3 linked regions of the Homo sapiens genome follow. The protein of the gene in region 1 interacts with the protein of each later gene in a pairwise test. Each region holds a gene or a part of one and is shown on either strand. Other genes may lie near its edges.

Region 1 (7,041 bases):
CCTCCAGCCCCGCTTCACAAGCTCAGGGCTTTACGGGAATTATCGTATTTAAAGCTCGCAGCCAGCCTGGGAGAGAGTTGCTGTTTTCCTGACTTGAGGACCCCAGCCCCATGGGAGGGGTTAAGTTCTGTGGCCAGTGTCACACCACCTGGTCAGTGGTAGAGCCCATCAAGACCTCAGGTCTGGCCGACTCCATGTCTCGTGCTGTCATTCCACCTCCTGTGCAGAGCACAGCCCACGAAGCTGCTGCTTGAAGCCTTCTGGGTGATCTTTGAGTAGTTTTTTAAAAATATAGCAGCTTTATTAAGATATAATTTGCATTCCCTATGATTCACCCATAGAAAATTTACAATTCATGGGTTCTGAGTATATTCACAAAGTTATGCAGCCATCACCACAGTCAATTTCAGAACATTTTTATTGGCACAAAAGAAACCGTGTATCCCTTAGTTCTCTCTTCAGTCCCCACAGCCCTAGACAGCCAACTGCTAATGTACTTTGTGTCTCTTGATTTGCCTAATCTGGACAATTTCCTGTCAATAGAATCATATATGTGTGGCCTTTTGTGTCTGACTTTTTTTTTTTTTTTTTGAGAGGGCATCTCGCTCTCTCACCCAGGCCAGAGTGCAGTGGCGCGATCTCAGCTCACTGCAGCCTCTGCCTCCCAGGTTCAAGCGATTCTCCTGCCTCAGCCTCCCGAGTAGCTGGGATTACAGGCACCCACCACCACACCTGGCTAATTTTTGTATTTTTAGTAGAGACGGGGTTTCATCATGTTGGCCAGGCTGGTCTTGAACGGCTGACCTCAAGTGATCCACCCACCTCGGCCTCCCAAAGTGCTGGGATTACAGGCGTGAGCCACCACGCCCGGACTGTCTGGTATCTTTGACTGAGTATGAATACCTCAGGGCTCATCGGGGTTGCAGCATGTGTCTGTACTGCATTCCCTTTAATGGCTGATTAATCCATCCTGTGGATAGACCACATGTGGATTATTCATCATCAGTTGATGGGCATTTGGAGTGTTTCCATGTTTTGGCTATTATGAATAATGCCGTATGAACATGAAGCTTTTGTGTGGTCATATGTTTTCATTTCTCTTGGTTAATACCTAGGAGTGGAACTGCTGGGTTATATGGTAATCTATATTTAACCTATTGAGGAACTCCCAGACTTCTTCCAAAGTGGCCATACCATTTTCGACTGCCACCAGTAGTTTATGAGGGCTCCAGTTTCTTCACATCCTTGCCAACTCTTGATACTACCTTTTTCATGATACCCTTCCTAGCAGGTGTGGAGTGGCAGCTCGTTGTTTGGGTTTGCATTTCCCTAATAACTGTGATATCCCTGATGATATTCAGCATCTTTTCACATGTTTCATTGGCCATTTGTATATCTTCTTTGAAGAAATGTCTATTTGGGTCCTTTGCTCATTTTTTAATTGAGTTATTTTTATTATTGAATTGTAAGAGTTTTTAAAATCTATTTTATTAAAGATATATGATAATGGATATATGATTTGCAAGTTTTTTTTCCCAATTCTGTGGGGTTTTTCACTTTCTTGCTGGTGTTTAGTTGAAGCACAGAAGTTCTTAATTTTGACAAAATCCCCATTTTATTTATTTTTTCTTTTGTTGTGTGTTCTTGGTATTATATCTAGTAACACTTTGCCTGACCCAAGATCTTGAAGATTTACTGTTACATTTTCTTCTCAGAGTTTTATCGTTCTTAGTTCTTACGTTTAAGCCTGTGATTCATTTTCAGTTAATTTAATTATTGCATATGGTGTGAGGTAGAGCTCCCACTTCATTCTTGTGTGTGTGCGGTTATCAAGTTGTCTCAGTAATCACTTGTTGAAAGAAAGACTGCTTTTCCCCCACTGAATTGTCTTGGCACCTTTGTCAGAAATCAGTGTGCTGTAAGTATGAGGGTTTTTAGTGAGCCTGAGTGTTTTAGTGAGCCTGAGTCCCTTGGCTGTGAATGTCCCCTATGCTTCTCTTCAGTACCCACTCCCTACCCCAGTGGGACAAAGTGGCTGGAATGGGCTGGAGTTGAGTAGCTTCCTTCTCCCACGTGGAAGTCTAGAGCTTACTGGAGTTGGGTGTTTCATTCCCCCAGGTCAGTTAGGCTCAGATAATATGCCCGCAGGAGCTCTGGGTAATGCGCTCCTCGTGAGGGCCGGCCTGGTTAAGGAGAATAGAGCACTCTGGCCTGTTTCAGAATGGTTCCTTTCCCCGCCACACTGCTGGAAGCACAAGCCGATTTTTCTCTGATGTTCACTGAGAGCCTTTCTCTAATATTCACTGAGAGCCTGGTTGAGCTCCTAGGGGTAAAACTCATAAGTATGGGAGTCCCTTATGACTGGGGCAGGTTTTTTCTTTTTCTTTTTTTTTTTTTTCTTTTGGTGTTGGAGTTTTGCTTTTATCGCCCAGGCTGGAGTGCAATGGCGCAATCTTGGCTCACCACAACCTCTGCCTCCCGGGTTGAAGCAATTCTCCTGCCTCAGCCTCCCGAGTAGCTGGGATTACAGGCATGCGCTACCACACCTGGCTAATTTTGTATTTTTTAGTATATCGGGGTTTCTCCATGTTGGTCAAGCTGGTCTTGAACTCCCGACCTCAGGTGATCAGCCCGTCTCAGCCTCCCAAAGTACTGGCATTACAGGCATTAGCCACCACGCCTGGCTGGGGCAGGTTTTTAACTCTCAGACTCATCCACACTGAGCCTCAAACAGTTCATAAATGACAGGGTCAGGCTCTCCCACCCTGACACCAGTTCCCGTGGTGATGTCTGCCCAAGCCTGTCCTGGTGAGCCGGGACTCTCTGTATTGGGCTGTCTGTCTCCAGGCTTAAGGACAGTGATTTACACTCTGTCCTCACCTCTCCTATGGATCCAAGAAGAGCTGATAACTTTTCAGTCTGTTTAGTTTTTTACTTGTTAGGACTAAGTGGTGACTTTTAAGCTTCTCACGTGAGGAACAGAAAACTGGAAGTCTTCTAATACAGATGCTTGAAGGTGTACATTTCTTCTAAGCACTGCTGGAGCTGCTTCCCATAAGTTTTGGTATGCTGTGTTTTTGTTTTGTGGCAAAGCATTTTCTTTTTTTTTTTTTTTTTTTTGAGAGACAGTCTCGCTCTGTCGCCCCAGGCTGGAATGCAATGGCATGATCTTGGCTCACTGCAACCTCCACCTCCCAGGTTCAAGCGATTTTCCTGCCTCAGCTGGAAATCACCTCCTTGCCTCACCTCCCAAGTAGCTGGAATCACAGGTGCCTGCCACCACACCTGGCTAATTTTTGTATTTTTAGTAGAGATGGGGTTTCACCATGTTGGCAAGGCTGGTCTCAAACTTCTGACCTCTGGTGATCTGCCTGCCTCGGCCTCCCAAAGTGCTGGGATTACAGGTGTGCGCCACCGCGCCTGGCTGTCCAAGCATTTTCTAATTTGTGTTGTGGTTTATTGTTGGACTCACTGGTTATTTAGGAGTGTGTTGTTTAATTTCCAAATATTTGCAAATGTCATAAGTTTCATCCTGTTATTGATTTATAATCCATTCCATTTCTATTAATTTACTTTGTGTGATTTTAGTTAAATATTTAAGTGTATGGAGGCTTGCTTTGTGGCCTGCCATTTGTCCATCCTGGAAAATATTGTGTGTGTGCCTGAGAAGCAGGTGTGTTTGCCCTTGCTAGGCTGAGGGTTCTGCAGATGTTTGTTTCGTCAAGGAGTATTGTGTCGTTCATGTCTTTTTTGTTGTTGATCTTCCGCCTAGGTATTTTATTATTCCGTAAATGCTTCCTCTCAGCAGAATCACTGCCCAGTTTTATTCTGTATTGACAGTACTTTCTGGGAGACCTTGACTCAACCTCTTGTCTTCTGATTTACGCCACATGACCAGGGCGTGACCAGAGTAGACTGTGGCGTTTCTCGGGGTCTTGGTTGGAAGGATATGGTGGTGGGATTGGTGGGATTCATTGCATTGGTAGGATTCTTTTACGGCTTCTGTTCACAGAGCCCTGCCCTGGCTGGCTGTCCTGTGCTTCTGTTTCAGCTCCAAGCCCTCAGTGAGCCTCAGCCCAGGCTGCAGGCAGCAGGCCTGCCACACACAGAGGTGCCACAAGGGAAGGGAAACGTGCTTGGTAACAGCAAGTCCCAGACACCAGCCCCCAGTTCCGAAGTGGTTTTGGATTCAAAGAGACAAGTTGAGAAAGGTAAGCAGAGCCCAGCAGTTGCCCTGTTCCCAGCTCTCCAGAGCCCCATCAGAGGAAGCAGTCCCAGCGAGCTGCTGAGGCAGTCAGTGAACCCGGCAGCGGCGCAGCCAGGAGCAGGGACGTGTCTCTCTGGGCCCCTGGAATTGGGGCTTTGGGGCTTCTCTGACAGATGTCTCCTCCTTGTAAACGAAGTGCCTTGTTCCTGGGCAGCTGTGTAGAGAAAGGCCCAGGCTGCACCTTTATGCAGGACATTGGTGGGCTTGTGGGACTCGGGGGAGGCGGCTGAGCCCCAGACACTGGGAACCAGGAGGCTGCTGTGTCTGTGAGCAAGCCCTGGGTGGGCCTGCCTGCCCTGGCTCCCAAGTGCTTGCTCCAGCGGACCCGATGATCAGGTCACTCAGCAGGATACCCTTTTCCCTTTGTACCTTGTCAAGGTAATTTAGTCCAGGTGTTTTTTTTTTTTTGTTTTGTTTTTTTTTTTGGTAAGCTACTTTTCCCTTTGTCGCGGTTCTGACGATGAGCTGCAGGCACAGAAAGGCCTGCAGTCTGTGGCTGAGGTCACAAAAGGAGCTACCTGGTTGTTCTCCTGTGTGCAGCCCACCCCACCCCCACTCCTTGGGAAGGCTCTGGGAATTGAGTGGCACCAGGTTTTGCTTTTTTTTTTTTTTTTTTTTTTAAATCAAATGCTGGCAAGGTCACAGCTAACTGTGTTCTGTGCACAGAGGAAACCAATGAGATCCAGGTGGTGAATGAGGAGCCTCAGAGGGACAGGCTGCCGCAGGAGCCAGGCCGGGAGCAGGTGGTGGAAGACAGACCTGTAGGTGGAAGAGGCTTCGGGGGAGCCGGAGAACTGGGCCAGACCCCACAGGTGCAGGCTGCCCTGTCAGTGAGCCAGGAAAATCCAGAGATGGAGGGCCCTGAGCGAGACCAGCTTGTCATCCCCGACGGACAGGAGGAGGAGCAGGAAGCTGCCGGGGAAGGTGGGTGTGAAGTTTCGGGGGCCGCTGTGGACTCCCTTCCACCAGACACCCAGCCCACCTCCATGTCCTTCCCAGCACCAACATATCACCCTGAATTTTACCAAACAGCAGTCCACAATTTGCCAATTCCTTTTCGTTTGAAGGTTTCTTATTCGTTATCAAGAGGGAGGCAGGAAGGAAGAGCAGCATATGCTCTAGAACTCGAGGTTTTAGATGCAATATTGGCAGGGAGTCGAGGGGACCTTGCAAGTGGATGGCCTGCAGATGGGTGCTTAGCATCAAGTGGACGCCCCCTCCTGGCAGGCAGGCCACATGCCCCATTTTTGTATGTCCACCGTCGTGCAGTGTCTGGTGCCATTTAGACAATCAGTGCCTAGTGAATGAATGAAGGAAGGAAGGAAGGAATATTGGGTAGATGAAGGTTAATGCATATGTGAACATTGAGAAAAAATGACATGTGAATCACTCCTTTTTGGTTTGGTTGACTCTTTTCTTTTTAAAGAAATAAAGGGTAGGAATTGGAGATCAACCGACTATTCCAGGATGTATTTCAGTCCCTTCAGATATGGAAAATGTCCTTCCCACCTGAGCCAGGAACACTTCTGAGGACATGACACCTGCGCTCTGGGGTGGACCAAGTCACAGAAGTTGGAGAATACACTTATTTGCAGAAGTTACCTTGATTCCATTTAAATCTAATTTTCACTTCAGTGTCTTACTGAAGAACGTGTCCTTCCAAGTTCCAGTTAAAGAATTGGATTTTGTCAGCCTCCCCCTAAGTATCCCTGCTCTGTCCTTGTGTTCCGTGCTCACCCAGCAAGAAGATGCTTGTGGTGTGTGAGGCGGGGAGATCTCACTGGCTCGCTCAGCCTGTGGCGCTCCAGTGTCAGACCCCTCAGCGGCTGGTCACAAAGCGTAACAAAGGTGGGCCTGAGATGCCACAGTGCCTGCAGGATGCACCTGCTTCTAGATGCAGGTGTGGTGACCTCATTTGAAGAAACGCGGTGGACACATAGGCCTGTGCAGTTTCCACCCCAGGCAGTGAGCCAGAGAAAGAGACTAGAGCTGCTTTTCCAGGTGTGCACTTTTAAAAAAGATTTTGTTTGGCCGGGCGCAGTGGCTCATGCCTGTAATCCCAGCACTTTGAGAGGCCGAGGTGGGCGGATCATGAGGTCAGGAGTTCAAGACCATCCTGGCCAATATGGTGAAACCCCATCTCTTCTAAAAATACAAAAATTAGCTGGGCATGGCAGCACGTGCCTGTAATCCCAGCCACTCGGGAGGCTGAGGCAGGAGAATCGCTTGAACCCCGGAGGCGGAGGTTGCAGTGAGCCGAGATTACGCCACCGCACTCCAGCCTGGGCGACAGAGTGAGACTCCATCTCAAAAAAAAAAAAAAAAAGATTTTGTTTACCAGCCTGCATACACATATAAAATATGTAAGTTAAACCCTTTGAGTAGGTCTCTTGAAAGCCTTTTGTCCTCATCTTCTCTGGCTGCTGCCCACTCCAGGGAAGAATAGAGTAATGGGTGCTCTCATGCTCTAAGTATGAGGGACACCTTCTCACGTGTCTCACAGTGGCAGCTCCATTTCCTCTCTCCATTCTAAGGAGATGCTGTCATTAGCTGTAGATATCCGTTCCTTCCTAAAACAGTGGCACCTTTCTTTTATCTTGAGTTGATTATCTCTTTAAAAAATTGAGATTTGGGTTGTTAGTTTCTCCATGTTCTGCCTAGAATGCACCCTTGTATTTAGGGCCATGCTGTCTGTAGATTCCGAGTCCAAGTGGAGTACACATAATGCATGTGCTTGTCCTGGAAGCCAGCCCTTGCGTCCCTACCATTTCCAG
Region 2 (6,068 bases), on another chromosome or scaffold:
AACTCATTTAATACCAAATTCCACTCTTTACATGAGTGTTTATTTCATAGGGAAATCAGAGCTCTAAACCTTTTCTTTGAACTTTAAGTATAATGACAGCATAACAATAAGAAAAGCTTTTCCAGAAGCATACCCATATGAACTGTAGGTTTCTTTTTAAATCAAGCCTTAACAAGGAAGGACCTTGAGGGAGTTGCCCACAATAGTCCTGAGATTCTGAGAAATAAGCAAGCTGGGTGTTTAGGATACTTGCTTGGTAGGGGTGGGGAAATGGTGAAAAAGAGTGTTAAAGGAAGTGGGAAATGGCTTCGTTGCAATTTCTTTTTTGGATTTCTCTATACGTGCAGCATGGTCAGTTTGGTGATACGTGTTCTCCCAAACCTCCCCCGCCTTCCCCAGTAGCTGGTTATAGAGCCAAGATGTGGCCTTTGGGACATAGATAATGCCCTTTTAATGACACTTGAAATTAATTCCTTTAGTGTAATCCTCTAGCAAAGAGATGAGAAAACTGAATTTGTAAAGCTTAATTTTACCCAGAGATTTTGGTGTAGAAAAGGGCCATACATTTGTGAATAGATGCTTAAGTAGGTGATGAAAATAAAATATCATTTGAGCAAACTGTCCTATACCAGAAAGTCTCAGGCACCAAAATAGCTTGGCAGGTTGTAAGATAATGTTCACTTCAAGGCTTTATCCTCAACAAATTAAAACTAGAACAGTTGACATAATAGAAAGGGATACTGTGTCCTTGGTACTCTTGTTTCTGAACTGCATTATTATAAAATGTGTCTGTCAGTAAATCATAGAGAGAATGTGGTACCCTGTTAAATAGCTGTCAACTCTTCTATTTTCAAGTTCCTGTACGATTCTCAAGTAATTCTAAACCTGTTGGAGAAGTAATATTGGTTTCCTTTTTTGCAAAAGTGTGTTCCTTTAGTGATACTTGTGTTCTGAGGCTTCCAGTTACATTTTTAGCAAAGAAAGCATTTCTTAAATAATGGGTAAAGCCTTATAATTGGGAATGTATGTAGACTGTTCTTTTTGTTTTGTTTTGTTTTTTGTTTTGGAGGGGTTACAGTTGGTAGGATCTATTGATTAATGTCTTTTGTGTATCTGGTATTGGGTAAATACTGGAGACAGTTTTAATCCCACCTAGCTTCATACATTGTACTAAGAGACTGAATGTACTTGAGTAGAAGCAATTAATTCCCTTCTCAACAGAGGCATCTCTTATTTAGAAAAATGAACAGATGATATTATTTGGTTACAACTTTTAAGATGACTTCTTAACACTGATCTCAGAAAGTGGATTTCGATAACAACATACAGTTGTCTCTCACACTGGCTGCACTATCCATTGGACTGTGGTGGACTTTTGATAGATCTAGAAGTGGTTTTGGCCTTGGAGTAGGAATTGCCTTCTTGGCAACTGTGGTCACTCAACTGCTAGTATATAATGGTGTTTACCAGTAAGTATTAATCCTTCAATTTTTGGTGCTTGTTTGCTAGATAAATAAATGATAACCGCTTTCAGAATTGAGATTATGAAATGAGGTTAGCCAGTTTAATCTACAGAGTAGTTTATTTTCATTGTAATTATCTTAAGTGTCATTGCAGTTCCTCTGTGGGTATTAAAGACATGTCTGTTATTCTAGATATACATCTCCAGATTTCCTCTATGTTCGTTCTTGGTTACCATGTATATTTTTTGCTGGAGGCATAACAATGGGAAACATTGGTCGACAACTGGCAATGGTAAGCTGATGCTCACTTTTCTGAATAAGATGTGGAACAAATGACAAGTTTTCTCTAAAAGGCAGTCCTTTAAGGGAAAGCAATTTGTGAAGACAACATTCTTTGATTGCTTTTTTGCACTTCCATTGAAATAAATCATTTGGAAGAATTTAATCACAGGTGTTTTAAAAGTTGAGGAGCCACTGGAGAGAAAAACTCAAAATGTGTTATGGATAGGGCAATATGATTTATTGACCATATGGGGGATATTAGTGGTTTTTAAAAAACTAATCTACAGGTCTCCCACTATATCAGAAAAGGACAGTTTTAAAAGTTAAAAAGGTCACTACTAATAAGTGTGTTGCTACAATAGGTATACATTAGGACCACCTCTAACAAATCAAGATGTTTGATCATTTTAGTGATGAAGGAAAAGGAAAAGGCTAGGGAGTGACATTCAGAGGCCACAGCAGTTTTATGAATCAGTGCTGTCACTTTTACCTTTTTAGCCAGGTTAGGAGAATTGAGTGACTTACTTTGCTGTATTTTTGGTAAAATAGCCAACCAATTATCTTACCCTGTTGGTTTCCTTTATTTTGAATTGTGGGTGTACATTTTTATAGCTGTACTTTAAAAATGTTGTTTTGACTGGAAGCTTTTGTTAATGTAACAGATTTTTTCCTTTATATCATATAGCAATTTGAAAATACAGTGATCTGAGTTCACCACAACAGCCCTATCCTTAAGTTCATGAACTATTCTTTGCTAATTTGCCTTATTGAATACTCAAAGAAACCTGCTTTGCTTCCTTTCGACATTAAAAGATTGATCTAAATTCTAAATCATATACTGCCACTACTTGCTTGTAATGCAGAAATCTCATCTTTCTCTTGCTTTTGGCTGTGGCTTTTTCACTTCCAGAATGTGAATTATTTTTTTCCCTGTCACATTTGTCATTTAATCATAGTAATTATGTAACTCTTGGATTATTTGAGGAATAAATGGGCACATAGTAATAAAATGTTCATTTTTAGAGCTTTTCAGTTTATTTGGAAGTTGCTATTCAAAAGAAGTCTTAATCTGTTAACCTTTTAACCTTTTAATTTTTGCAGTACGAATGTAAAGTTATCGCAGAAAAATCTCATCAGGAATGAAGAAGGCAAAAAATATCTTTTGTACAGAAAAGCAAGATGAAAAGGATGTGAAATGGTAGATATACCAACAAAACTTCAGACTGTAAAATTGCCAGGATGCAGTTTTCCCCTTGATTGGCGTGTGTGTATATATGGATAAATATATATATACACACACACATATTACTGCAATCTGTGATTGCTTCATCTGTAAATCAGTTGTAAACCTTTACATATTTGACTTAAATAACTGTAAGATATATATGTACTACATTAAAAAGTGTTGATTAATAGATGAAATTTTTAAATTAATTTTTTAAAACATGCCATACATTGTATCACAATGTTAATGTGCCAAGATATTGTTCCTGTCATGCAGAGTATAAGAATGCTTTGAACAATTTGTAGACTTAGTGAAATAAAATAAGAGGAAAGCCAAAAACAAACAAACAAAAAGCATATGGGGAGCTGGTATTTTCTCTTTAGCTTACTGTTGTGCCTTTTTATTTTTCTAATCACAGCAGTATGAGTTATGAGTGCCCTAATTTGTGGTTAGTTTCTAATTTAATGTTGTTTCATAGAGTTTGGAGTGTTTTGATACAGGGTGAAAATGAACTTCTGGTTTCAAACCTGCGTTACTGGAGACAGCCCAAAGAGTAATTTTCTGTTTTGACAGGTTTTACTGGAAGTATATGTGATGAGCAGAAGAGGTTATCAGCATTAAATTGTTTTGGTTCTAAATTTGGAACAGTATATATAATTAAAAGTAAGGAACATTAGAGGATTTAATTAGAATAAATACATGTTTTGGAAATACAGTGACCTCTTGCAGTGTCACAAAAGTGCAAAGTGATATTAGCTGTCATCTGCAATACAGAATCTCATTGCTTTTGCACATGGAGCATATAGGAAACTCCAAACAGATCACAATGAGGTTTCTAAATCTGTTGGGTTCTGTCTTCTATTGGGTTCTGTGAAGCAAACCACTGTAGCTTTAGCTGGGTTCAGTCATATGACTCGTTGGTGGAATGCCTAGGTTTTTCATCTTACATGCAGTCTTGGGGGTGGATGAATACATAATTTCTCATGTATTCGTGTATCCATTAGTGAATAGTTCAAGTCTGTTTAAGAGTGTATTGAGATGGCATTCTCTGCATGTTAAAGATCTTAATGGCAACCAGCACCTCTTAAGTATGGTTTAAACATATTCTTAGCTAATTTTTTCCATTAGTTTTTGAAATTGGTGGCAGTTGTCTGATCCACAAGGGCAAGATCTTCTGAGTACTCTGGGGTGTGAGTATGTGTGCACACGTGTGTGTTGGAGTGAGTGAGAGAATGTGTCTGTGCATGTGGCCATGCTTTCCTAGAATGTCAAGTAGATATTTTTACACTTTGAGTTTTAAAGCAATTACTATCAGACTGAGATCTTGTATGCCAAACTTTAATCTGCTTTTATGTTTTCAGGCTGAAGGTGTGAAAATCCTAAGAGGATTTCATATTGAATATGTGTACACAATCTTAACTATCGTGGTGGAAAACATACTACTATAATTTATTATTATATCTTCCAGATAATGTTATTCATTTAGAACAAATAAGGTATATTTTTTAGAATCAACTTTGTAAGCACTATAAAATCTTTAATAAGTTATAAGGTCTATGATGTGTTTACTTTAAAAATTGCTGTTAAAAGCAACACGTATTAAATATGTAATTATCATCTGGGTTAAGAGTCTGTTTTTCTTCTTTGTGGTAAGTCTTAGAATATGGTACTGTGGATTAATCTAATGAAATTAACATATGTGGTTGAAGTTACCAAGAAACGATGAAAAGAAACTAAATATAGTTGACCCTTGAACAACAGGAGTTAGGGGCACCACTCCCCAACATAGTTGAAAATCCATGTATAACTTTTGACTCCTCCAAAACTTAACTACTAATAGCCTACTCTTGATGGGAAGCCTTACCAATAAGAAACAGTTGATGAACACATATTGTGTATGGTATATGTATTATATACTGTTTTCTTACAATAGTGTAAGCTAAGGAAAAGAAAATGTGTTTACTCTTCATTCAGTGGAAGTGGACCATCCTAAAAGTCTTCACTCATGCTATCTTCATGCTGAGTAGTAGGCTGAGGAGGAGGAGGAGGAGGGGTTGGTCTTGCTGTTGCGGGGGTGGAAGAAGATGTGCATTATTAGTGGGCCCACACAGCTGAAAACCATGCTGTTCAAGGGTCAACTGTGTGTGGTATCGGTGAGACTGAATGATTATCGTTGGTGTTCTTAAATTATTTTCAGGTCCTCTAGAAAATAAGATAATTATAGCAAAAAATAAAATTGTTTTGAAATTTTGATAAATATATAAATGTATAGAACCTATTTTTTTCAATGAAAGAAAATGGGAAACATTTTTTAACATTGCTAGATTGGCAGTGCTTTCTTTTATTATTTCAAGTTATGGAAATTTGCACAGTTGAAAACTGGGGATAAATTCTACAAAAGTGCAAGAAAACAATTCAAATTAGCCAGAGCCCTGCTAAAACTTTTAATGTAAAATTTATTTATTTGCACTGAGCTGTTTTACCTTCTTTAAGGCCATTGGGACCTCTCAATGATGCATATGTTTCATACATCTTGTATTTTCCAGGTAGAAGTCAGACTTGGTTAATACCAATAAATACTTCTGTAATCCTATTGGCTCAGTTACCTTTATAATGAAGTATATTCTGTGTAAGGTAATTCTTCCAGTGATGGTCTGAGTAGTAGAGTCTTAGCTTTGTGTGTCTGAAAAGGTCTGTTTCATTCTGAAGAATAATTTAGCAGGCTGTAGGATTCTATGTTCATAGTTTTTTTCCCTCCCTCAGCACTTTGAAGATTTTTAACTCATTGTCTTCTGTCACCTAATGTTACAGATAAGTCTGCCATTACCGTAATTTTCTTTCCTTTGTAGATAATCTATCTTTTCACTCTAGGATATTTGCATGATTTTCTCTCTATCCTCTAACATTTTTCAGCTTCATTATGATTTGACTAGTTGTAGATTTGTTATTTTTTTTTTTTGCTTGGTATTTGGTATGTACTTTCAATCTGTGGGCTCATGTTTTCAATTCTGGAAAATTCTTAAATGTGCCTGCATATTGGAATCACATGGGGACCTATAGAAAATTCTGGTGTCTGGGTTCCACCCCCAGAGACTCTG
Region 3 (7,041 bases), on another chromosome or scaffold:
ACTCTTAAATCCACGATTTGCAGATGAAGACATGAAACAAGAGGGGACAGGGACCAGGATTGGGAGCAGGAGGAGTAATTTATGAGCGACATTGTTTAGAATTGCTATCACTTGATGATAGTAAGAAGCAAACTAATTTTTAGCTAATATTATTGTTTTAAAATTCTCTCCAATGCGCCCTCTCATTGTCTGCCCCTGGAGGCATCATTCTGATGGCCTGCCCAGGGTACACCCCGACACCAAGCCCCAAGGAAGTTAGTGGCTGCCAAAGGCCAGACAGTGGCTGACAGTGGGCGCCAATCATATCTGTCTGGTGTCAAAGCCTGGGCTTCCAGTCACGCTGCTGTTCCGCCTTTAGTTCAGCGGCTGTCAACCAGCATTGACCCTTTCTCCTGCCCTCACCCTGCCCCACAACAGGGGAACTTTGGCAAAGTACAGAGACATTTTTTGCTGTCCAACCTGGAGACAGTCTTACTGGCATCTCATAGGTGGAGGCCAGCGGTGCTCTAAACACCCTGCAGTGCACAGCTCCCACAACAAAGCATCATTTAGCCCAAAATGTCAGTGTGCCGAGGCTGAGGGACCCTGCCTCCCAGTAGGGAGGTGCCCTGGTTTGCTCGTGGGATGCTGAAAAAAGATTTATTTTTTTGTGGCTGATAACACAACCCTGACAAAGAATTTCCAAGTCTTCCTGCACTGTTTTGTGCAAATAATACATACGCTCTTCTGGGTGATGAGAAGCAGGGATTGTGTACAGGTGCATCTGTTCTTCAGCAGCATTGTCAGAGTTAAACTCAGATGAATGCTATTGATTCCTTTAATAAACATTTGCAAAGATGGCCGGGCACAGTGGCTCATGCCTGTAATCCCAGCACTTTGGGAGGCCGAGACAGGTGGATCACGAGGCCAGGAGATCAAGACCATCCTGGCCAACATGGTGAAATCCCCTCTCTACTAAAAATACAAAAATTAGCCGGGCGTGGTGGCGCTTGTCTGTAGTCCCAGCTACTCAGGAGACTGAGGCAGGAGAATCGCTTGAACCTGGGAGGTAGAGGCTGCAGTGAGCCAAGATTGCACCACTGCACTCCAGCCTGGGGACAGAGCAAGGCTCTGTCTCAAAAATAAGTAAGTAAGTAAATAAATAAATAAATAAATAAATAAGCAAGAATTTGCAAAGATATCCTAAGTGTTGGGCCTGTTCTGGATGCTGAGGACGGTGATCTACAAATACAGCAGGTTCTTGAATAATGTTGATTCATTCAATATCATTTCATTATAATGTTGATGAGGGAGGGAAAAAAAAGGAAGGATCCCTTGAGCCCAGGAGATGGAGGTTACAGTGAGCTGTGACCGTGCCACTTCACTCCCACCTGGGCAACAGAGCCAGACCCTGTCTCAAAAAAAAAAAAAAAGAAATAAAAGAGCGAGAGAGAAAGAAAAGAAAATGATTACTGGCTGGGGCCACTGTCTGTGTGGAGCGTGCACATTACCCTCATGTCCACATGGCTTTTCTTTGGCTAGTATGGTTTCCTTCCACATCCCAAACCCGTGCACGTTAGGTGAATTGGAGTGTCTGTATGGTCCCTGTCTGAGTGAGCGTGGGCGTGCGTGTCAGTGTGCATTCTGCAATGGGATGGCATCTTGTCCAGGGCTGGTTTCCACCTTGTACCCTGAGCTGCCGGGACAGGATCTGGTCACCCAAGACCCTGACCTGCTGTAACTGGGTAAATAATTATCTAACTTGTTTTCAATGTTTCTTAAGTATATGTATAGCTCACATTCCCTTCAGTGTTTAATATTGGAAGTGTTTTGGTCTTTATTTAAGATCTCCGTGATGTTTTTGTGACCAGAAATATGCTGTAGAAATTTAACTGTTGTTTCTAGCAATTTGCCTATGGGAATATTGGCTTATGTTGTTTCGCTTACGCATTGCAATTTCCAAAAACCAATCAATGATGTTAAGTGAGGACTCACTGTACTGTTTGTGCTTTCGAGTCACGCACTGGTTGTGGTGGTAGAAGGACAGTTGAGGAAACAGTGACAACTCCATATGCTAATGGCTGGGGAGGGTACTCAGAGGAAGGGCACAAACCAGACTATAGAAGAGGCGCAGGGAGACATCTAAGAAGGAACTCTGAGGTTGGGCGCGGTGGCTCACGCCTGTAATCCCAGCACTTTAGGGTGCTGAGGTGGGCGGATCATGAGGTCAGGAGTTCGAGATCAGCCTGGCCAATGTGGCAAAACCCCGTCTCTACTAAAAATACAAAAATTAGCAGGGCGTGGTGGCAGGTGCCTGCAATCCCAACTCCGGAGGTTGAGGCAGGAGAATCGCTTGAACCCGGGAGGTGGAGGTTGCAGTGAGCTGAGATTGTGCCATTGCACTCCAGCCTGGGCAACAGGATCGAAACTCTGTCACACACACACACACAAAAAATACTGATGAAACATAAAACAACCTAGGGAGGTGGCTAGTTTTATCACATAATTATTATTACTTTTATTTCAATAGCTTTAGGGGTACACGTAGTTTTCGGTTACATGAATGAATTGGATAGTGGTGAAGTCTGAGATTTTAATCCCTCCCTCCTATCCCACCCTGTCTGCTTCTAAGTCTCCAGTATCCATTCGACCACGCTATATACCTCTGGATACCCATAGCTTAGCTCCCACTTATAAGGGAGAACATGCACTATTTGGCTTTCCATTGCTGAGTCACTTCTCTTAGAACAATGGCCTCCTAGGCGGCAAGAGCGACACTCCATCTCAAAAATAAAATAATAATAAAACCAAAAAAACCAGGTATTTTATTCTTCTTCTCCTTCTCCTCTTCCTCCTTTCTTTTCTTCCTTCTCCATCCCCCTTCCTCTCTTTCTTCTATCCCCTCCTCCTCCTTCTCCTCCTTCTCCTTCTTTCTCCTTTTCTTCCTTGTCCTATTCTTGATCTTTTCTTTTGAGAGGCAGCTAATCCAAGGTTTGAGAAGATGAAAGAACGTGCCTAGAACCACACAGCTGGGAAGGAGGGAGGCAGGGAGGAGGGGTGGGAATGGGGCAGGAGTCCTTTGCGAATAGATCCCTGGCCTGACCCGGGAAAGCTGTGCTGACCAGGGCTGGGGAACAAGATGACTTTGAGGGGAATCCCTCTGAGATCAGCACTGTGTCTTGACAATCCATGCCAGCCGCCGTCCGGAGTGTTCTGGGGGTGGGGAGAGGGAGGCGGCAACACGCTGAGGCCTCAGGACTGTCTCTTCAGTTTGTCAGGTGTGCCTACGTCATCATCCTCATGGCCATTTACTGGTGCACAGAAGTCATCCCTCTGGCTGTCACCTCTCTCATGCCTGTCTTGCTTTTCCCACTCTTCCAGATTCTGGACTCCAGGCAGGTGAGCAGACCCAAGGGATCCTGGTGACTTTCTGGTTCTCCCCTTCTCTCTTTCTCTAGTCCCCACTGTGAGTCGCACAGGCCTGGGGGTGACCGGAAAACCCTCATTTGTGGATTCTCCCTGGCAGGGAGACACCACTCGAGCCTGCATCCCCACTCCAAGCTGTCCCTGAAGTCAGCATCTGGGGACTGGGTGGCTCTAGTGTGTGGCAAGGGACAGTCCTGATGAGGCCTTCGTGCCACGCTCCAGGTGTGTGTCCAGTACATGAAGGACACCAACATGCTGTTCCTGGGCGGCCTCATCGTGGCCGTGGCTGTGGAGCGCTGGAACCTGCACAAGAGGATCGCCCTGCGCACGCTCCTCTGGGTGGGGGCCAAGCCTGCACGGTAATTACGCCTTCTCTCTCTTGCCACGTGGCTCTGCATGAGCCCCAGGGCTGGAAGGGGGTGGAGGATGGCACAGACCAGGCCATCCACTGGTGAGGGCTGGCCATGGGCTTACCTGGACTTGGCTGGGTGGGGTGCGTTATAGCTTTAGTGGGAGAGACCAGATGCATGCGTGGTGGTGGCACATGGTGAGCAGCAGTAAGTAAGGGTCCTCGAATCCAGAGGAGGTGGGTCAGCAAGAGTCCTTGCAGGCTTGGAAGGCTTTCTGGGGGAGGCAGCTAGCTGCAGGGTTCCACCGGGAACAAATTGGATAGAGGCTGGATCAAGCTGTGTCTGATAGGATAAGGGAAGCAGGCCAGAAGTGGCTCAACTACCCAGCTCATGGGGAAGCAGAAAGGTCCTCTCTCCAAGCTGGAGCATCTATTCCCACTGCAAAGAAGCTTCTTATCTTCCCCGATATCACTCAGTACCCCAGCTTCTCTCTCCATTTCCAGGATCTCTCCTGCCAATCTAGCTAGCCATTTCCAGCTAAGCCATGGAGTCAATATAATCATAATCATAACCATAATCAATCATGATCATAATGGGTATATTGAGTGTCTACAAGGCCCCAGGCATGATACCAGGAGCTTATGAATTGCCTCATTTAATTCTTACCACAACTCTGAGAGCTGAGTATTCTTACTGCCCACATTCTGTGGATGAGGGATTGGAGGCAGAGAGGGATAAAGTGATTTGCTCATGGACACACGGGGATTGGACCCAGCTTCTCTGATAAGGCCTGTGTCCTCTCTAATCAGAAACTCAGGGCATATCTTCCTTTTGAGACAATGTGTCCCCTCAATGATGGCACGTCCTTGGCCCAGCCATCAGGAGTCAGCTGCTGGTCAGTTTACGGTAAATTCCTCCTGAGGCGCCCCTGTGTCAGGGGCTGTGCTAGACCCTGAGCACACACAGACGCTAGCCTGCCCTGCAGGCAACCCATGCCCGGGGCTCCCTTGGTGCCTCAGATTCCCCTGAGCAGGGGACTTTGTGGCTCTCTGATCTGTTACACATCCTGGCATTGATTCCTTCCAGTAATTGCTTTAGCATCAAATCAAAAGCCATCATATTTTCTAGAAATGAGAGACCCCAGGAAAGTGGACCTCAGGGCCCTCAGAATTCTTCTGCTTGGCTCCCTTGAGTGGCCAGCTTGGGTGGGAGGCCACTCCAGTGGGTTTCATTCTGCAGCATGCTGGAGAGCTTCCACTTCCAAACCCAAGTTCACACATGCTTCTGTATCCTTCCTGCCACCTTGCTCCTCTGAGTATGGTCTCCGGTTGTCCAAGGCACTGCCTGTCCTGGGAGTCACCTGTATGTGAGGCACCCTTGGTGCCTTGAGATATCATGTAGAAGCCTTGGTTCTTCTCAGACAACTCCATTCATGCAAACTCTCCCCCTCCTCCTAGCCTGGGTCCCGGGCTTTGTTTTTTTTTGGGTCCATAATGTCTGCCTGTGTGGACAGCAGCTTGGGCCCTGGTGCAGAACAGCTCCTAGGTCCCTTCTTCAGGCTCCTACCCCTGCCCCTGCTCCTACCCCCAGGTGAATTAGGAGCCCTGAGGAGGAGCCTGGCTGCAGCGAGGCCCACAGACTGAGAGTAGCTGAGCTCCTTCTGTCCCTAGCCTTGGACAGCTGGGGCATGTAGAGCCACAGAGCAGAGTCAGGCCCTGCCCTGCTCACAGCCCAAGGAGAGAGCAGACATGGAAACAGGTGCTTTGAACCCAGCACAGCGATGATTAGAGTAGGGGGAAGGATTGAGAAGGGTCAGGCCAGCCCCACCTGGTGCACACACTGAGAGCGTGGTCCCAGAGGAGGGATGTTGTTTGAGCAGGCTCTGAAGGACCATGAGGAGTCTTCCTGATAGACAGCAGAGAAGGGAGCAGGGGTTACAAGCAAAGGGAGTGTTTCTTCTGAATACTGTTTGTGTGATAGCTCCACTGCAGCATGGAGGGGTCAAAGTGTATGTGCGGGGCGGAGGGGAGATGGCAGGGTTGGAGTGGCAGCCGGGAGAATAGTCACACTTTCCCAAGCTCCCTCCCCAGCTCACCCTACCCCTACTCTGCTTAGCCCTTCTGAACTTCTGAGAGGTGCAACAGAGTTTGGGGGTGGGTGGGAATTTCCTAGCCAGAAGTGGGAAGCTGGGGCTGCCTGCACATAGGGGTATTCCAGCACACCCTAGGGCAAGCTCATATTGAGTTGGCACCATCTGGATGCCTGGGCTTCCCCTGCTAGATGGTGGGGCAGGGGTGCTCCTTAGAACCACGACTGGATCTGAGGCCTCTTGGTAACCCCAGAAGCAAGCAGAGTAGACATCAGTCATGGGTGTGGGAGAGGCAGGAGGGAGAGAGGAATGGAGGAAGCAAAGAAGGGAAGGAGGGAGGGAGGGGAGGCTCTAAAACCGTCATCCCTATTCCAATATCTGATCTTGAATTGGCCTCAACACCTGTGCATCCCTGCAGGGGTGGACCCAGTCCCCAGTTGCTTCCCAGGGAGTACGGGGGTGGGGTGGGGATTCTCTGGCTTTCCTCCCTGCCCCTCCTCTGCAGGCTGATGCTGGGCTTCATGGGCGTCACAGCCCTCCTGTCCATGTGGATCAGTAACACGGCAACCACGGCCATGATGGTGCCCATCGTGGAGGCCATATTGCAGCAGATGGAAGCCACAAGCGCAGCCACCGAGGCCGGCCTGGAGCTGGTGGACAAGGGCAAGGCCAAGGAGCTGCCAGGTGAGCCCCTGGCCAGGGCACTGCCAGGCCACAACAGCAGCCTTCCCCTCCCTCTGCTGGCAAATGCTTTGGCCACCTCCTTCTCCCTGTCTGCTTCCCGGAGCCCTCCTTTAAACACGCATAGAGAAAAAAAAATAGAAAATACTGTTGTCCTAAGTTTTAGGAGGGGATTATTGCACACAACTTAGATCCTTTAATAGAGCTTTGAACAAAGTCTCACCCTCAGTTCCCATCAGTTGCAGAAATCAGTGTGTTCACCTGATTATTCATTTGGGCATCTTTCGAGCACTTAGGGATGCCCCTCACTCCTTGCTACTCCTGCTCATCCTCAAGGAGGCCTTTTCTGACCTCCTCGAGCAGCTCAAATCCTTCCACTCTCTGCTCCCATAGGTCTGGGGCTTGGCGTCCCATGCTTGCTTCCCTGCTAGGTGCGAAGCTCAGGGAAGACGAGTCAGCATCTACCTTGCCGTCTGCCGTGTTCCCTTACCATCCCCAGCCCAGTGCAGTAGAGTC

What was found.
Region 2: the proteins of GOLM1 (region 1) and INSIG2 interact in binary tests that used the Homo sapiens proteins (3 or more experiments, as listed by UniProt).
Region 3: the proteins of GOLM1 (region 1) and SLC13A5 interact in binary tests that used the Homo sapiens proteins (3 or more experiments, as listed by UniProt).

The regions. Positions count from the first base shown.
Region 1 is NC_000009.12:86,033,518-86,040,558, reverse strand, and holds part of GOLM1 (Golgi membrane protein 1), read left to right. Parts: intron 1-4,051; coding exon 4,052-4,211; intron 4,212-4,933; coding exon 4,934-5,191; intron 5,192-7,041.
Region 2 is NC_000002.12:118,105,435-118,111,502, forward strand, and holds the end of INSIG2 (insulin-induced gene 2 protein), read left to right. Parts: intron 1-1,302; coding exon 1,303-1,469; intron 1,470-1,655; coding exon 1,656-1,755; intron 1,756-2,846; coding exon 2,847-2,888; coding exon of another isoform or gene 2,889-2,928; 3' UTR 2,929-5,563; downstream 5,564-6,068. UniProt on the Homo sapiens protein: Oxysterol-binding protein that mediates feedback control of cholesterol synthesis by controlling both endoplasmic reticulum to Golgi transport of SCAP and degradation of HMGCR.
Region 3 is NC_000017.11:6,703,365-6,710,405, reverse strand, and holds part of SLC13A5 (Na(+)/citrate cotransporter), read left to right. Parts: intron 1-3,249; coding exon 3,250-3,378; intron 3,379-3,627; coding exon 3,628-3,764; intron 3,765-6,349; coding exon 6,350-6,528; intron 6,529-7,041. UniProt on the Homo sapiens protein: High-affinity sodium/citrate cotransporter that mediates the entry of citrate into cells, which is a critical participant of biochemical pathways.